Linked DNA regions of Homo sapiens: region 1 is linked to region 2. Evidence: fine-mapped expression QTL. A gene starts in region 2. The other region holds a variant in brackets. All regions are shown on one strand. Distances are between the middles of the regions.

The links.
Region 1: its variant is fine-mapped to the expression of CKS2 in B cells (Fairfax 2012, PIP 0.95).

Annotation. Positions count from the first base shown.
Region 1 is chr9:89,283,468-89,292,147 of GRCh38, reverse strand. It overlaps LOC105376136 (a long non-coding RNA gene), which reads left to right. Exons shown (of 3, transcript XR_930101.4): 3 at 3,531-8,680. Among named protein-coding and RNA genes, the nearest start is that of CKS2, 23 kb to the left of the region's middle. The variant C/T (reference allele first, on the strand shown) is at 4,897.
Region 2 is chr9:89,306,169-89,315,714 of GRCh38, reverse strand. It overlaps CKS2 (CDC28 protein kinase regulatory subunit 2), which reads right to left and starts at 4,520. Exons shown (of 3, transcript NM_001827.3): 1 at 4,364-4,520; 2 at 418-545. The coding sequence starts at 4,422. MIR3153 (microRNA 3153) reads right to left here and starts at 3,490; the gene lies at 3,409-3,490. It overlaps LOC105376136 (a long non-coding RNA gene), which reads left to right and starts at 4,913. Exons shown (of 3, transcript XR_930101.4): 1 at 4,913-6,349; 2 at 6,769-6,857. RefSeq lists enhancers at 3,965-4,014, 4,685-4,974 and a silencer at 4,985-5,214.

The DNA.
Region 1 (8,680 bases), 23 kb after region 2:
TGCCTGATTAATTCTATTTCTGTATGTAAGTAACATAATAAAAATATCCAGCATAAAAATGTGAAGTTAACCCTGGGGATCTGAGAGATTTATATTCATTTAAAAGTACACACTTCTCAAGTTTGAAAATCTCCACAAGAATGTGCAGTACACCTCTTTGACTCTGGTGTGTGACATAGCACCTGGGACAGCATTCAAATTATAGTCTCTGTGGATAGTGTAGGCAGCACACAGCTTGCTGGGCTGTATGCAGAGGTGCTGACAGCATGTGATGGAACCTCACGCAACCAACTTCAAAAGGGAAACATTTCATTTAAAGTCCTAATAATCGCAGATTTATTTGGGTGACAAAGTGAAGTTTTAGATGAATGCAAACATTCTAGGTTGAGGAGCTGACCCCTTGGGATGACTTCATTTAATTAGATTATTTTCCTAATAGTCCACAGCTGAAATATATTGCCCTGTGGGAAGAGGTTCTGATTTGCCGGTGGAAATGAGGAGGTGGTAATTTTTGATGGTGGGACACTTGGAGGCAATGGACAGGCAGAGTAGGATGTGGGCAGGAAGAGGTCCCTAAGTTATGCCCAGAAGAAGTATTAAACTTTTGGACAGCTGAGAAAATGAAGAAGGACAGTGCTGAAAACAAACTTCGTTTAAGAAAAAAATTGCCTTTAACTGTCTTCACTTTCTCTTTATTCAATAGCCTTGTCTCCGCAGAACTTAGAGAGTACTGTTTTCTAATTCATTATTCTTGTGGACTAAAATCAAGGGTCCTTAACCTGTGATCCAAGGATCCCTTAAGGAGTTCATGGATAGAATCCAAGGAATCCATAACTTTGGATGGAAAAACATTTCCTGTAACTGAAGTTTAGCATTTTCTTCAATTGTGAATGTTGGGAACAAAATGCAGTAGTATTAGTTATATTATTACAGCTTTTGCAAAAATCCTGTGATATAATTCTCACTCCTCACTACTTCAGAATTATAGTAGTTACTAGACTTTTTGATAGCTCTTCTTATTTAATCTGTTCAAGAAGAATATATAATACTATGTCACACATATGGTTTAAAAAATCTTTTTTTCTTTTCTTTTGAGATGGAGTCTCATTTGTCACCCAGGCTGGAGAGCAGTGGTGCAATCTTGGCTCACTGCAACCTCTGCCTCCTGGGTTCAAGCGATTTTCCTGCTTCATCCTCCCAAGTAGCTGGGATTACAGGTGCACACCACCACGCCTAGCTAATTTTTTTGTATTTTTAGTAGAGATGGGGTTTTGCCATGTTGCCCAGGCTGGTCTCGAACTCCTGAGCTCAGGCAATCCACCCACCTCAGCCTCCCAAAGTGCTAGGATTACCGGCGTGAGCCACTGTGTCCAGCCTTGGTTTTTAAATATTTTGATAATTTTTGCCATAGACTGAATCATATCCTCCCAAATCCATATGTTGGTGTTCTAAACCCCAATGTGACTGTGTTTGGAGATAGGGCTTTTAAAGGTAATTAAGGTTAAATGAGGTCATAAGAGACCTTAATCCAATAGGATTAGTGGTTTTCTAAGAAAAGGATCTCCTCATTTCCCACCCCTTTTCCTTCTCTGCACTAGAAGCACTAAAGAAAGGCCATGTGAACACACAGCATGAAGGTGGCCTTCTGCAAGCCAGAGGCCTCACCAGGAACTAACTCTGTCAGCACCTTGATCTTAGATTCCCAGCTTCCAGCAGCATGAGAAAATAAATTTCTGTTGTTTAAGCCACCCAGTCTAAAGTATTTTGTTATGGCAGCCCAAGCTGCCATACAAGTGCATTTTCATACAATTGGTTTTGTTTTGAATATGCATTTTATTTTACATATTTAAAATACTGGTCTGAGAAGGGGTTCGTAGGCTTCAACAGACTGCCGGAGGAATGCATGGCATAGAAGTGGACAAGAACCCCTGGGCTCACTGGGTTCTCTGGGTGAGGCTGCTGTTTTCCTTGCTTTCATCTACTTTGGAGGCTGGAAATGAAACCACTCAACTCCCCAGCCTCTCTTGCAGTTAAAAACAGACTTGTGTCTGAGCTCTGGTCAGTGAGGGATAAGAGAGGCCTGATGAGATGTTCCATAGGAGGAATTTCCTTCTGGAATAGAATGAAAAAGTCTTTTGAGCATAGACATTTTTGCCTTTCTTTGCCTGTTTTTCTGCCTGGATCATGATGCAGTGTTTAGATGTGGAACAACAATTTTGCAATTCTGAGAGTTGCATGTCAAACACAGCAGCCTTGACAGCATGCTGGAGCTGATGCATCGGTCTTGGCTGACCACTTCTGGGTGTTCTGTCACATGAGGAAACTCAACACATTTGGCCAAGCCTCTGTAATTCTGTGTCTGTTATTTGAAGCTGAGAGTAATGCTAACTGATAATCCTAGCAAATTAAGACTCATGTCTAGCAGTGTTTCTCAGACTGGGATCCCTGGACACCCAGAGTCCATGAATGTGTTCTTGAGAATTTGAGAGCTCTCAAAGCATTCTTTCAGTGTTGCATGCTCATGTTGATGATAATCCAAAATATATACATAGAAATAAGAAAGAAAAAATAATATATACATATATACACATAGATTTGTCTGTTATAAACCCTAAAGTCTCTTAGTCTTATTTTATTTATTTATTTTTTTTTTGAGACAGAGTCTCGCTCTGTCACCCAGGCTGGAGTGCAATGGCAGGATCTCGGCTCACTGCAGCCTCCACCTCCTGGGCTCAAGTGATTCTCATGCCTCAGCCTCCTGAATAGCTGGGATTACAGGTGCATGCCACCATGCCCAACTAATTTTTTTGTATTTTTGGTAGAAACGGGTTTTCACCATGTTGGCCAGGCTGGTCTCGAACTCCTGATCTCAAGTGATCTACCCAAACAAAAGTGATCTACCCTACCAAAACAAAAGGGCCTTGGCCTCCCAAAATCCTGGGATTATAGGCGTGAGCCATGATGCCTGGCTAGCCTCTTAGTCTTAATAGGTGATATTTGCACTTATGAGACATTTTTATAGACTAAGACTTTAAGTCTGTGTTTTTCAAGTTGGATCTATTGTAGGGATGTGGGCATGCATTTATAGGCATCTTTGAGAAATTATTTTCATCCTAATAGTAGGGTCCCTATTTACTGAGTTGTAGAAAAACTGATTCATAACAAAATACCTGGGAAAAATTCAGTTTGAGTTCCAAACTAACAATTTAGAAATGAACTTCCAGAAAGCAATCCCATTCATCAATCAAGGACAGCTGTGGCAGAGTTAAGAGCATGGGTTTTGAAGTCCACAGATCTGGACCCAAGTGCTGACTTATGAGCACTTACTGGCTTGGTGGCCCTTGACATATTCTGGAAGTTTACGGACCTTCAGCGTCGTCATGTGGGATAATTGTCTTTACTTTACAGAGTTGTTGTAGCAATTAAGTGAAGTGATGAGTATCAAGCGCTTCACAGAGTACAGTACACAACAGGCATACGATAAATGCTGATTACCGTTCTGTTCTTTTGTTCTGTTTTGTTTTGTTTAGTTTTTGAGATGGAGTTTCACTCTTCTTGCCCAGGCTGGAGTGCAATGGTGCAATCTCGGCTCACCGCAACCTCTGCCTCTCAGGTTCAAGCAATTCTCCTGCCTCAGCCTCCCGACTAGCTGGGATTACAGGTATGTGCCACCACGCCCAGCTAATTTTGTATTTTTAGTAGAGATGGGATTTTTCCATGTTGGTAAGGCTGATGTTGAACTCCCAACCTCAGGTGATGCTGCCCTCCTTGGCCTTCCAAAGTGCTGGGATTATAGGCGTGAGCCACTGCGCCCGGCACGATTCCATTTTGATATCAAATACCTAGTGAAGAATCACTCAGATTACAATTGCTTTTTTTTTTTTTTTTTTTTTGAGATGGAGTCTCGCACTGTTGCCTGGGCTGGAGTGCAATGGTGGGATCTCAGCTCACTGCAACCTCCACCTCCCAGGTTCAATCAATTCTCCTGCCTCAGCCTCCCGAGTAACTGGGATTACAGGCACCTGCCACCACGCCCAGCTAATTTTTTGTATTTTTAGTAGACACAGGGTTTCACTATGTTGGCCAGGCTGGTCTCGAACACCTGGCCTCGTGATCCGCCTGCCTCAGCCTCCCAAAGTGCTAGGATTACAGGCATGAGCCACCGCGCTCGGTCTACAATCACGTTTTATTATTGGCTCGTCTAGTCATGGGATAGAGAAGGTAAATAGCAAAATAGAAAGAAAAGGGGGAAAAGGTAGAAGGCAAGGGGAAAACTATTGGTTTTAGATCTTTATCCTGGTCCTGTCAATGATCAGGTAATTGGAAGGATCAAAATTAGGCCAAACTTGGTAATTGGGCCAAAATTGAACCAAAGTTTGTGTCAAGAAGACCTGGGGCAGAGATATGTGACTAAATCATTTGGAATATGCCCAGACCCCAAGAATATTTATGCCCAACTTGAATGCTAACCAGAAGTCCCTTACTGTAGAAGATTGTAAGGTTGCTATTTTTTTGCCCCGACACCAAAATATTGATGTATTTTCCAACACCAATTCTCCAATTCTCTGACACCAACTCGATGTTCAACAATTCAGTTATATTCTGTCACTAATTCCTGCAGCTATCAGCAGGCCCCACAGGTAAAGGATTCAGTCTCACAAGATTGCCCCCCCACCCACTTCAGTTGCCAGCTACAATGGGGTGCTCAGACCATCCACACTTCTGCCTAGCTGACTGCAGATTTAGGGATTCCCATGACTCTTTTCTCAGTTTTGGTAATTTGCTAAAACTGCTCACAAAACTCAGGTAGACATTTTACTTAACATTTCCCAGTTTATTATAAAGGCTACAACTCAGAGACAGACAAATGAAAGCAATGCATAGAGCAGGGTATGT[C/T]GAGTAGTTGGTGGCACAGAACTTCCAGGCCCTCTCTAGGCATACCACCCTCGCGGCACCTCCGTGTGTTCACTGACCCCGAAACTCATTGCATACCATTCAGGAGGCTTTATAACCCATTTCCAGGCCCCTTCCATCCGTGGGAGGCCAGTGGGTGAGGCTAAGAGTTCCCACCCTCTTTAGTCTTTCTAGTGACCAGAGGCTAGTTAGAACCACCCTAAGTCACTGCAGTAACATAAACTCAGGTGTAGTACTAGATATGGTGGAAGATGGCATGTTATGAGTAAAAGCAGAAACTCCCCTCACTCAGGAAATTCCCAGGGTTTTAGGAGCCCTGTGCCAGGAATAGAGTACAAAAATCAAATAGGTTTGTGTATATCACAGAAATATTCCAGGTAAACTGGATGACTGTTTAGTCCATTTGTGCTGCTGGAATACAATACCCGAGACGGGGTAATCCATAAAGAATAGACATTTATTTCTCACAGTTTTGGAGGCTGTCTGATGGGGGCCTGGTCTCCGCTTACAAGATGGCACCTTGAACACTGCATCCTACAGAGGGAGGAACAGTTTTCTTCACATGGCCAAAGAATTGTTGGGGGTGGGGACCAAACTGGCCTTTGTATAATGAACCCACTCCCACAATAATGGTATTAACTCATTCACAAGGGCAGAGTCCTCTTGGCCCAATCACCACATAAAGGGGCTACCTCTTGGCTGGGCGAGGTGGCTCACGCCTGTAATCCCAGCAATTTGGGAGGCCAAGGTGGGCAGATCACGAGGTCAGGAGATTGAGACCATCCTGGCTAACACAGTGAAACCCCGTCTCTGCTAAAAATAGCAAAAAAAAAAAAAAAAAAGCCAGGCGTGGTGGCAGGCACGTGTAGTCCCAGCTACCTGGGAGGCTGAGGCAGGAGAATGGCGTAAACCTGGGAGGCGGAGCTTGCAGTGAGCCGAGATTGCGCCACTGCACTCCAGCCTGGGCGACAGAGCGAGACTCCGTCTCAAAAAAAAAACAAAAAACAAAACAACAACAAGAAAAGGGCCACCTTTTAATACTATTACAATGGCAGTAAGTTTCCAACACATAGGCTTGCAGGGAACACATTCAAACCATTGCAATGACCAAATTATAAGAAGATTCTTCTGCTTTCTTGGACTCAAAAACATGGACATTTATTTATAAATCACACCTGGCCATCACCGAGTCCCCAGTTTGCCAACAAGATAATTCAATCTGTAGCCCCCAACTTGGCATCACATCTCACCTCAGGATGCACTTGTGAGATGTTGTGTTGGGTTGTGCTCCACTGGGGAGCAGGGGGGTGCTCAATCTGAAGGCTCACAAGCAATGCACAACCATGTTTGGTTAGAAACCTCTTGGGAATATTTGTATGGAAAGAAGGTTCTAGATGTGTTTTGGCAAGGCAAGGGTTTTCCCAACTTCAGTCTTCACCCTGTGAGATTCTCGGGCTGCCAGTCCAGGGGTCTTTGTTCCTGGACCACAGGAGGTGATAATGCAAATTAGAATAAGAACAGCTGTTTGGTTTTTTTTGCAGGAAAGTGAATCTTGAGTAGAGACACCCAGAGATGGAAGGCAGATAGAATCACAGCAACCTTAGGTGACAGTATAAGAATTCTCGTTCCTGAGAATTTTGGGTTTCTGTGGCTCTCTCCCCTTGGCTTGATTGTTCAGATTGACCAACAATTTCATGAGTTACTTACTACTGCTCCAGTGAGTTTCTTTTGTGCTCCAGTTAGGCCAAGGTTAATACCTGCACCAAATAACCATAATTGATACTTTTTTCTGTTGTATTGAAGTTAATCATTTATATGTTAGTCTTAACATATAAGGTTGTGTATATCCTGAGGGCAAGATCAGGTCCTGTTCCTTTTTGTCTCTCCAGGGCCTGCACAATGCTTGGCTTGTAGAAGGTACTGAATAGCTCCTAATTGTATTAATGGATACGATTTTTCTTTGTCTGATCTTTGGCAAATTCATTTGTCTATTACTTAAGTGGATATCTCTGTCCCCACCTACACTTTTCCTTCTGGTGCTACTTGGGATCTTAAATAGCCACAGAAAACCAAGTGAGAAGAGTGAGTGTGCTCTGAGGATGGTTTTGAGGGACTCTTATGAGGATTATAGTAAAATAATTTTATGTTATTTATTCTCACTATCCAGATACCTTTTACTCTAAATTTCTGCCAGCATGCTGATTTGTTGAGATTTGCAACACTAGAATTTTCCAGCAGAGCAGAGTATTGCTAGAACTTGTATCTCAAGCTTCTCTAGAACTGGCAACCTCCTTGGAGTGGCTCTTGAAGGCAATGCCCTTTTCCCAGGTAGTGGCAATGGGAAATCACTTTTCTGAGTGTCGTGGACACAGGTGGGAAGCCTTCGATTTCAGCCTAGGGTCATCTCTTCTATTCCAGGAAATGTTGGCTGTTTTCCACTTAAACTTGTTCATGCTTTTCAGGTCCCAGCTGTAGTCTTCAGAGATATTTGAAAATTAGCTGGTCTAAAACATGATTCTGGCAACCAGTGAAATGATAAAGTAGAAACTATTTATAAAAACAATACTTAAATTACGTATTTCAAATATGTAAATTTATTTGCTCTTTTAAATTTTATTTGTCCTTAGTGCTTTTTAATCCAAATCCATTTTAAACTCCACTGTTATATTCCAACTTATGTAGCATTATTCTGTGCTGTAGTTACACATAATAAATTAGTTACTGTCAGTTTACTTCATTATGCTTTAGTGGTTTACTCTTTCTGAGAATTCAATGAAGGTTTACTTTCTAACAATACCTACTAAAATATTACCAAAGTGAAGAGTATCACCAAGGAGTAAGGAATAACAGAGCCACAGGCAGCTCCAAGTCCCGCTTGTAGAGCTCCAGTCTCGGAACGTGGGATTGCCAGACCTGCCAAGTGGCCCCTTCTGCGTCAGAGAAAAGCAGGCTCAAGGAAAAGGCAGACTTGAGGCCTAGCCTCTTAATGTCCATGTGAAAGCAAGAGGCCAGGTGAAGTTTTTGGAGAGGAGTGACTTGAGTACTATTTTATATGAAATGTTTACTCGGGAGACAGGTTTTTTTTCCCACGAGATGAGGTGAGGAAGGCGCTTTTGTATGAACTGAATTTCAAATCCTCAGGGCTCATGGATATTTTTCCATGGAAAAGGAGGTTGAGAAGGGAGTTCCCCATGGGTGCTACCAGGATGAAAATTTGCCTAGATGTCTTTAGCTGGGGAGAGGGAGTCTGAGAGTTAGTTACGCCCTGTGTGTGTGTGTGTGTGTGTGTGTGTGTGTGTGTGTGTGTATGTATGTGATGGAGTCTCACTCTTTGTCCAGGCTGGAGTGCAGCAGCGCAATCTCAGCTCACTGCAACCTCTGCCTCCTGGGTTCAAGTGATTCTCCCGCCTCAGCTTCCCAAGTAGCTGAGATTACAGGTGCCTGCCACAACACCCAGCTAATTTTTGTACTTTTAGTAGAGACAGGGTTTTGCTATATTGGCCAGGCTGGTCTCAAACTCCTGATGTCAAGTGGTCCACCTGCCTTGGCCTCCCAAACTGCTGGTGTGTCCGGAATTGGTGGGTTCTTGGTCTCACTGACTTCAAGAATGAAGCTGTGGACCCTCGTGGTGAGTGTTACAGCTCTTAAGGTGGCACGTCTGGAGTTTGTTCCTTCTGATGTTCGGATGTGTTCGGAGTTTGTTCCTTCTGGTGGGTTCGTGGTCTCGCTGGCTCAGGAGTGAAGCTGCAGACCTTCCAGGTGAGTG
Region 2 (9,546 bases):
TACCTCATTTAAACTTCATGTGGTATATATCCTTTCAGAGGGCTGAAGAATCACTTTAAATTAAATCAATTTCCACACATAGATAAGAACACTTGTCTTAGGATATACTTATGATAAAATGCTTTGGGATACTGTTAACAATGATACAGATTTTAAAATACATTTTTTTTTTTTTTTTTTTACTTCTTACATTATTTTCCAAGTAGAATAATGTGTTACTTTCACTGCTGTGGTATTTTATTTACCATAAAATTGGAACTCTCTCCAGAGTCAAGAAATTAGTCATTAAAAAAAAAAACTTATCAGAACAGTTACTTTCAGATATCATTTGATGTCAATGATATTTTTAAAATTTTGACAACCATAACCACCAATATTTCAACAATTACTGCTTTACTATAACATAGCATAGCTTACCTGGCTCATGAATCATGTAATGAACCCAGCCTAGACTCTGTTGGACACCAAGTCTCCTCCACTCCTCTTCAGACATCAGATGAGTTTTAGGTACTTGTTTGGAAAGTTCTCTGGGTAACATAACATGCCTGTTACAAGATACAGCCAAGTGTTAGTCCAGTGCCTTTTCTACAACTGTCGCTTTATACATGTACCTTAAGGAACTCTGTTGCTTTAATATTGAGAACTGCAATCTACTACCTTTAATTCTGATATGATGGCCTATGTTCAAATTAGGGAGCTAAGAGTGCACAATCCAAAAGCAGAAAGCATTTTCCATAGGATTAATCTTTTTCTCTTATCACAGAATGCTTACCAGTTGCCTTAATCTTCTTCAGGAAGAGAACCCCAAAATATAAGTTGAACATATGGTTACCAGCCTCCAAATCATAAGCCAACAAGATATAAGAAAATGTGTAACTTATTATGAAAAGTGTTCTCAAAGGGAAAGAACATGCTGAACTCTTTTTCTCCTTCTTGTTGAATGCACATTAATATGATCAGGGAGCCAGAGCAGGAATCTAGGACCATAGAAGCAACTGTAAATTGAGAACGGTAAAGCAACAAGAGGTAAGGACCCAGCCTAGTCCTTGACTGTAAAGCTGTTATCCCTGCCCCAGATTATTAGACTTTTATGTAACGAAAAAATCTAAGTTACAGTTAATTTGGGTTTCCTCTTACTCAACACTAGCTTTGTAGTAGCTACTAGTCCTTGTATGCTCCAGAAGTTGCTTTATACTTCAAGTACTTTGTTCAAAATTAAAAACAGAAAACCACTAACTGTACATACACATTGTGTGCAACCTCACCGTTTTCCAGTTAATTTACTGACCTATATCCAAAACTTACATTGTTCAGTTTCTTAGGCAAGCATGGAATAACCTTCAAAGTTAAACCATCAATATGTATAATTGTAGCCTTACGAGATTCTCAAAAACAAATCTGTATCATTAACAGTATCCCAAAGCATTCTATCAAAGATTTGCCTAACAAATCTCTTTCCCCAAATTGAGTAAGAATTTTTACTCAATTACCATAAAAAGGACTTTATGAAAGTCACAATTCTCAGCTCCATGTTTACCACCTGCAGTAGTAGCAACAGTTTTATACTGAACCATCCATAACCACCAACCCAAATTTTTAACCAGTATAAGATATCTGTCTGTGAGTCAGCTGGCTGGGGATGAATGAGGTGCAATCTGGTCACTTTCTGAGACACAGTAAACTGAATCCCTAACCCGCTATAAGCACCCAGCTGTCATCAACTTAAATTTTAGTCTGTGGTTAAGTACCAATTTATTTGCAGGGCAAAGTGAGCCTCAGAAAAATTCTACTGTGTTGTTAGATTGCCTTAAGGCCACCAAGTCATAGCTTACTACCATAATTTGTAGAGTTTTCATCAATTCCAGTGAACTATATAGTGATTCTTTGTAATTCTTACCAGTTATCACCCACATTCTTGAAATGCTGCTTTAACATCTAACTTCAAATAATCTGTTATCTTATTTCTACGTTCTATCTTGTTGATTATTCTCAAAGAGAAATGTAGTGCTTTTGTACCTTTTCTATCAAACTTACAGAGTACATAAATCTACCAACAAGTTATTTAGATAGAAGTTACCACCCTTCTCCATAAACACGGAAACAGGCTCTCCTCCATCAGGGTTTCTTTATAAAGGAAAAATGTTTAAGTAGCATCAACCCCATATGAGGATTCTACCTGTATTTTGCCACACAGAGATTTCAAACTAACTACATGTAAGGAAAATTATTTCCAAAATCTAACGTTTATTTCAGTTGAAATGCAAAATAGTGCAAGTATTACTAATTTGTAAGGCTGCCCAGAAAAATTAACAGTTTTTCTCTTGTGAAAACAGACTTCCATGATGTGGGGGTGGGGGCACCCACTGTTATGCCCTTAGAAACATTAAGACCCTCACGTAAAAGGACTAGGAAATTAAGTTTGTAATTAAGAAAAATCAAAGAAAGATAGAGATAACTGCACACTGGGAAAAATAAATACTAGCCTTTGAAATTTACATTGCATGCTGCACCATTACATATTAATACAAACCACCCTAGACTCATGCCTTAGTGCTATATTATTACTAGTTTCCCCTTTAAAATTATGTGTGGAAATTACTATCCTGTTTCATAAAGGTTACTGGCTTGGCCAATTAATACCAGCTCTAATTTTTATTGGATTAAAATACATCACTTCAGATATGTAAACTTTCTTCTATACATTACCACACACAAATCATTTGAGTATATTAAAACTAAAAAATCGACCTACTGCCATCAGAAAGAAGTCTGAGAAATAGCTTCATTTATTTTCAATATTATACCCTAAAAGAAACTTGTACCGACCCTTAAATCCTTATCCTAAACACTTGGCACCAGATGTGTTTCAGAATAATTTTCTAGGTTTTAGTAAGATTATTACGGTTTACATTGTGTTCATTATTGGATATCCTCAATAGGGCTCTTGATTAACATCGCATAATTGAACACTGCCAGCATATTACACGAGTATAGTTTATTATTACTATAAGGTTAACACAATCTACTTGAAATTTACCTACAGCCAGAAAAACATGCTATTTTTCTAGCTAGGAATACAAAAGGGTGCAATTACTACTACCCATAGAAATATTCAGTAGTCCTCATGTGAAAACAGACTTCCATGCTACTAGGGAGGGGGAGAAAAAGAGAAACCACCCACTGTTTTGTTCTTTCTTCCTTAAATAGCATTCGGAGAAATCTAACCTACAAAGGCAGCAGACAGAAAACAAGGTCACAATTTGGCCAACGATGGCATGGGCTTTATCTCCCCTAAATCTTGGTAGTATCCCAGAACGCAGCGTTCTAGTCGCTACCTAGTTAAGAAAAAGGGGTTGACTGTTTTCTGAAGCCACGCCCTAAATGAAGTGTCCCGCATACAGTAAGGACAACAAATTTTAAATGTCCCTACTCGCTTTCCCCCAATCTACTTTAATTGGGGGGAAGGGGACAGGGACATTTAAAATTTGTCTAATTTTACTGATCGATTACAGCCACCATGTTCTAGTACGGTGCTTCAGGACTCAAACGCAAAAGTTTCTCAAAGCCCAAAATTTGGCCAGTGTATACTAGCAGAAAATGATGCCCAAAGTCCACTCAAGTTCTTAATCGGCCTTAAAATGAAACTCCTTTAATAATACCCTCAATTGTATGACTGCGGCTAACCTATAATGGCCCAAATCACCATACCCAGTAAACATTTTCGAATCCCCATCAAGCTCATTTTTCGGGGGGTCGCCTCCAAAGCTTATTCTTATACCACTCACTTCAAAAACAAGAAAAAGAAAAGTGTTCCTCTGTGTTAACAGATGAAAATGACCATTTGACCATTCTAAACCACAAACTAGTAAAAGCTGCATCACCCCGTCAGCGACAGGGAAAGTGTGTCACGGTTGCTAAAGGAAAAAGGACGGCACCAGGTGGGTTTTCCTGGACTGGTTCAAAGAACTGGAACTGAGACCAGCTACTGAACGGCCTAATTACTTCGGCCACGGCCGAGAAAAAAGTGACGGGATGGTCACTCCGCGTCGCCGAGGACCCCATGACCCCCAAGTTGCGCCGGTTCCTACCCAGGTACTAAATGCGGCCCGGTGGGCACTCTTCCCTCACCCTCCGCGCACACCGAACAAAGGCCCAACCGGCCCGGCGCGGCCAGGCACCCAACCATGTCCGACTGCGCGGGGCGCCAGGTGGCCGCGACCCCAAACCCCGGCCCTCGCCCTCCGGCCCCGGGCTCCGCCCCCCAGGCCCCGGCCCCCACCCCCGACCCTACTATGCCTGGGTCGCCCCGCCCGCGGGGGCCCCGGCTGAGGGAGCCGGCTCGGGGTCTAAGAAAGGCGCCCACCGGTACTCGTAGTGTTCGTCGAAGTACTTGTCCGAGTAGTAGATCTGCTTGTGGGCCATCCTGCTGGCGCGCTGCAGAAAATGAAACGAGAGCGCGAAGAGCGGGCGCAGCAGACAAAACCACGTCCAGCCCAGGCAACAACTCGCCGGAGACTAACGACCGCAGTCCCAACGATCCGGATTTGAATCCGACAGCCCGCCGCCGATTGGACAGCAGCGCCGACCAATCACCTTCTGCGGAAGTCGGCCGGCTGCCAGCCTATCGTCGCCGCCGCCTCGCAAAGTCCGCTTCCTGGGTCAGCCAATCAGAGATCTGTTGCGAGGTTGCCCGAGGGAAGATAGGTACGTCACGGGGGTGGCAGGGCCCTTAACGGGCAGGGGCGTGGCCAGAGGAGGGCGAAGTCGGGACGTTAAGGGCCGCAGAGCGCGTGCGCAGGAACGTGGAAAGTTCCAGGACACGGAACCGTTGGGACGGAGGACCTGAAGGTGGAGTGAGGTATCACGGGGTTTGGTGATGACGTAGTCGGTCGAGGCCGGAAGCGTGGGCCACAGGGCTTTGAGCGGAAGCTGTCGACCTTGCACGGTGATGGCGCTCCTCGTGATCCCTTGTATCCCCTCAGGCTCGAGCCAGGAGCCTAGGTCCACTTTGAAAAGTAGTAAAAGGCAGAAAGGTTCTGCGGTGTGAGGGGGAGGGCGGCTTCGTGGTCGGCTGGGTCGGGGGAGCGCCGGGCGGCCGCGGCGTGGCTGTGTCCGGGGCTGCCCTGCGCAGCCGGCCGTTTCGCCGCCTGGTGCACTTGCTGAGCTTCCGGCCTGGCCCGTCGCGGGGCTCCTGGCGCCCCCCTAGACGACTGTGTGGAGAATGGAGCCTGCGGAGCCACGCGTAGAGAGAGGCCCGGAGCCGGCGCGGTGGCGGCGGGCGCCAGTGGTCCCAGCCACTCGGGAGGCCGAGGTGGAGTGTCGCTTGAGCCCAGGAGTTCCAGACAGGCCTGAGCAACAGAGCCAGACCCCGTCTCCACAAAGAAAGAAACAAATGGGCCAGAGACCCAGAATGCTTTCTGTAGCCTAACCTAATGTTCAAAACCAGGGCAGACCCAAGCCATGGAAAGCTTGAGGGAATAAAATAATATTCTGCTGCGGCCAAGAATAACAATGCTAATTCCTGGATAAGGGGATTTAAAATGATGTTTAACAACTTCTGGTCTTTTAATATTGACCCAAGTTTAAAAACATGTTCATATAAAAAAGTTACTGGAAGAAATTTATAAATGTAACTGGTGGTTATTTTTAGATGACAGAATTAAAAGTGATCTTTTTGGTATTTTTTCCACAACGAGCACGTGTCATTTTTATGTTAATTTCATTTTATGCGAAATGCTCCAGCGCAGTACAGGCTAGTGGGTTCAGGGTGGCTGTGACTAAGTAATGTAGATGGGGTACCTTAGACAAAGTTTCCAGACTAGAGGCTGGAAGTAAGAGGTCCGGGTGCCCTTTTCCACACTGCAGACCACGGACTTTTCCGGTTTCTGAACAAGTGAGACAGGCCGGCTAAGGACATTTATAATCTCCATGGGTGAGGGCCCCACCCTCATGACCATCTAATCTTGATTACCTCCCGAAGGCCCCACCTCCTAACTTCCTAATACAATCACTTCTTGGGGGAAGAGGGTGTTTGGAATTCCACCCCCCGCCCTTTTTTTTTTTTGGAGACAGTCTCACTCTGCTGCTCAGGCTGGAGTGCAGTGGTGTGATCTTGGCTCACTGCGACCTCCCCCTCCCAGGTTCAAGCCATTCTGCCTCAGCCTCCAGAGCAGCTGGGATTACAGGCCCAGCTAGTTTTTGTATTTTTAGTAGAAACGGGTTTTCATCATTTTGGCCAGGCTGGTCTCGAACTCCTGACCTCAAGTGAACTGCCCGCCTTGGCCTCGCAAAGTGCTGGGATCGTCAGAGGCAAGTGAACCAGAGCACCTTCATCTTAAACAGGAGCTGGGTAAGATGAGCCTAAAACCTACTGGGCTGCATTCCCAGACAGTTAAGGCATTCTAAGTCACAGGATGAAATGGGAGGTCAGCACAAAATACAGGTCATAAAGACCTTGTTGATGAAACAGGTTGCAGCAAAGGAGCCAGCCAAAACCCACCAAAACCAAAATGGCGAAGAGAGTGACTTTGGTCCTCACTGTTACACTCCCACCAGTGCCATGACAGTTTAGAAATGCCATGGCAACATCAGGAAGTTACCCTACATGGTCTAAAAAGGGGAGGCATGAATAATACACCCCTCGTTTAGCATATAAGCAAAAAATAACTATAAAAATGGGCAACCAGCAGCCCTCGGCTGTTCTGTCTATGGAGTAGCCATCCTTTTATTCCTTTACTTTCTTAATAAACTTACTTTCATTTTGCACAGTGGACTCACCCTGAATTCTTTCTTGCACGAGATCCAAGAATTCTCCCTTGGGATCTGGACTGGACCCCTTTCCTGTAACAGAATTACAGGTATGAGCCACAACACCCGGCCTGGAATTTCCACGCATGATTTGGTGGCTGGGAGCAGACACAAACATTCGTTCATACATGATAGAATCCTTCAGGTCTCAGATTAAGCATTTCATCTTCTGAAAGGCCTTCCTTAATCAACTTCTCTACAGAAAGTTCTTCAATTTCCCCATTATGCCCTTGCCACCGACTCCAGTGGGCTTCCCTCCCACTGTCGCAATTGCATGTTTGCTTAGGTGGTGGTTGTCTCCCTATCTGCGCTATAAAATACTCTCTGTTAGTGAGCCAAGACTGTGCCACTGCACTCCAGCCTGGGCGACAGAGCGAGACTCCGTCTCAAAAAAAAAAAAAACAACTCTGTGAAGCTAGTGTAGAGGCCATGTCTGTCTTGTTCACCACGGAGTGCCTAGCACATAGCAGAGTTCCTTGCACATAAGCACACAATAAGAAGTAAATTTTAGGCACAGTATAATAAGAGTAAATAATTAGGTATAATTACTATGATGGCAAAAATGTGAATAAACTGTTAAGGAAAATGGACAAGGAAATTACTTTCTGGCAGAACCTGGGGGAAAAAAACTTCCTGGGAGATATATTTTTAAATAAATGTATAGATGCTCCTTAATTTACAATGGGATTACATCCTGACTAGTCAAAAAAATTTTAAGTTGAACCATTGTAAGTCAAGGACCATCTGCACTGTGAAAAGTTCAAACACATGGAATAATAGAATCAACTCCCATGTACAGGTTGTGCATCTTTAATCTGAAAATCTGAAATGCTCCAAAAGTCCAAAACGTTGAACAACACTGACATGAGCTCAAAGGATATGCTCATTGGAGCACTTCAGATTTCAGATTTTCCTATTAGAGATACTGAACTGGTTAACAAAATGCCCATATTCCAGATTCCAAAAAACCCTGAAACACTTCTGGTCCCAAGTGTTTTGGGTAAGGGATACTCAACTTGTTCCAGTCATTTAGCTTCAGCAATTACCGTTTGCCAATCATGTTTCATCTGTTCCTCTCTAACTTTTTTTTTCTAGAATATTACTGAAGAGATCTCAGATATGTCAGTTCACTCCTAAATAAAACTTTTCAGTGTATCTCTGTGTTTATGGTGTGCATCTCAGGAAAATTTTTTAAAAAATGCATAACCACATCATACTTACGCTTAGACGTCCTTAATACTCTTTGATAGCTGTTTTAGACTCACATTTCCCTGACTGCCTCACCAAAGCTTTTTATAGTTTGTTTAACCCTGCTTTCAAACTTGGGCCTACATCTTGCATTTTGTTATTGTCTCTCTTTTTTTTTTTTTTTTTGAGATGGAGTTTCACTCTTGTTGCCCAGGCTGGAGTGCAATGGCGCGATATCTGCCCACTGCAGCCTCTGCCTCCTGTGTTCAAGCAATTCTCCTGCCTTAGCTTCCCAAGTAGCTGGGATTACAGGTGCCCTCCACCATGCCCAGCTAATTTTGTATTTTTAGTAGAGATGGGGTTTCTCCATATTGGTCAGGCTGGTCTTGAACTCACGGCCTCAGATGATCCGGCTGCCTCAGCCTCCCGAAGTGCTGGGATTACAGGCGTGAGCCCCCGCACCCGACCACATTTTGTTATTGTCTCTTTTAGTCTTCTTTAAACAACCCCCCAACCTCTACCTACATAGACACCCTCCCCACACACACCCCTGCCACCTTTTTTAACATCTGTTCATCAAACCAGGTCATTTTTGCCTGTGGAACGTTACACATTCTGGATCTGTGTAATTGTTTCCTTGTGGTGCAGTTTCCCTGGTTTTTCTATTTCTTGTATTTGTTACAATCTGGCATTTAGATCTAGGTTAAAACAAAACAAAACCATTTACCAAAAATTCCTAGTAAGTGGCAGACTCATATTTGAGCCCAAACTGTCTGACTCCAGAGTTAGGCCTCTTACCCACTATTCTGTTCTGTCTCTTAGAGTTCCACAGGTAGAAAGCCAGGAGGGCCAAGCACCTTTCCAAAGGAAGGATTGGTAGTTGTAAAGGTGTGAGGAAGTGTGGTACACACAGAAAATGCTGAATAGGTTTGGCTTAGATTGTAAAAGTCATGGAAAGGAAAGTTGTGGGAAGTGAATGTAGGAGGATGAATGTGGTAGAAAAATGGCCCCCAAAGATGTCTGTCTTAGTCAATTTTATGTTGGTATAAAGGACTACCACAGCCTGGGTAATTTATAAAGAAAAGAAATTTATTTCTTACCATTTTGGAGGCTGGGAAGTCAAAGGTAGAGGGGCAACATCTGGTGAAGGCCTTCTACTGCATCATAACATGGTGGAGGGCATCCCATGGAGGGAGGGCAAGGGCCAGCCGGCTCAGGTGTCTCTTCCTCTTCTTATAAAGCCACAGTCCCGTCATGGGAGCCCCACCCTGATGACTTTAATCTTAATTACCTCCCAAAGGCCCCACCTCCAAATACCATAAACATATAAATTTGGGGATTAAGTTTCCAACACGTGAAATTTGGGGGACACATTCAAACCACAGCAATGCTCATATCCTAATCTTTGGTATCTGTGAATGTTACCTTACACAGCAAAAGAGACTTTACAAATGTGATTAAATTAAGGATTTTAAGATAGGGAGATTATCTTGGATTATCAGAGTGGTCAAATGTTATCACAGGGGGCCTTAGAGGAGGGAGACAGGAGGG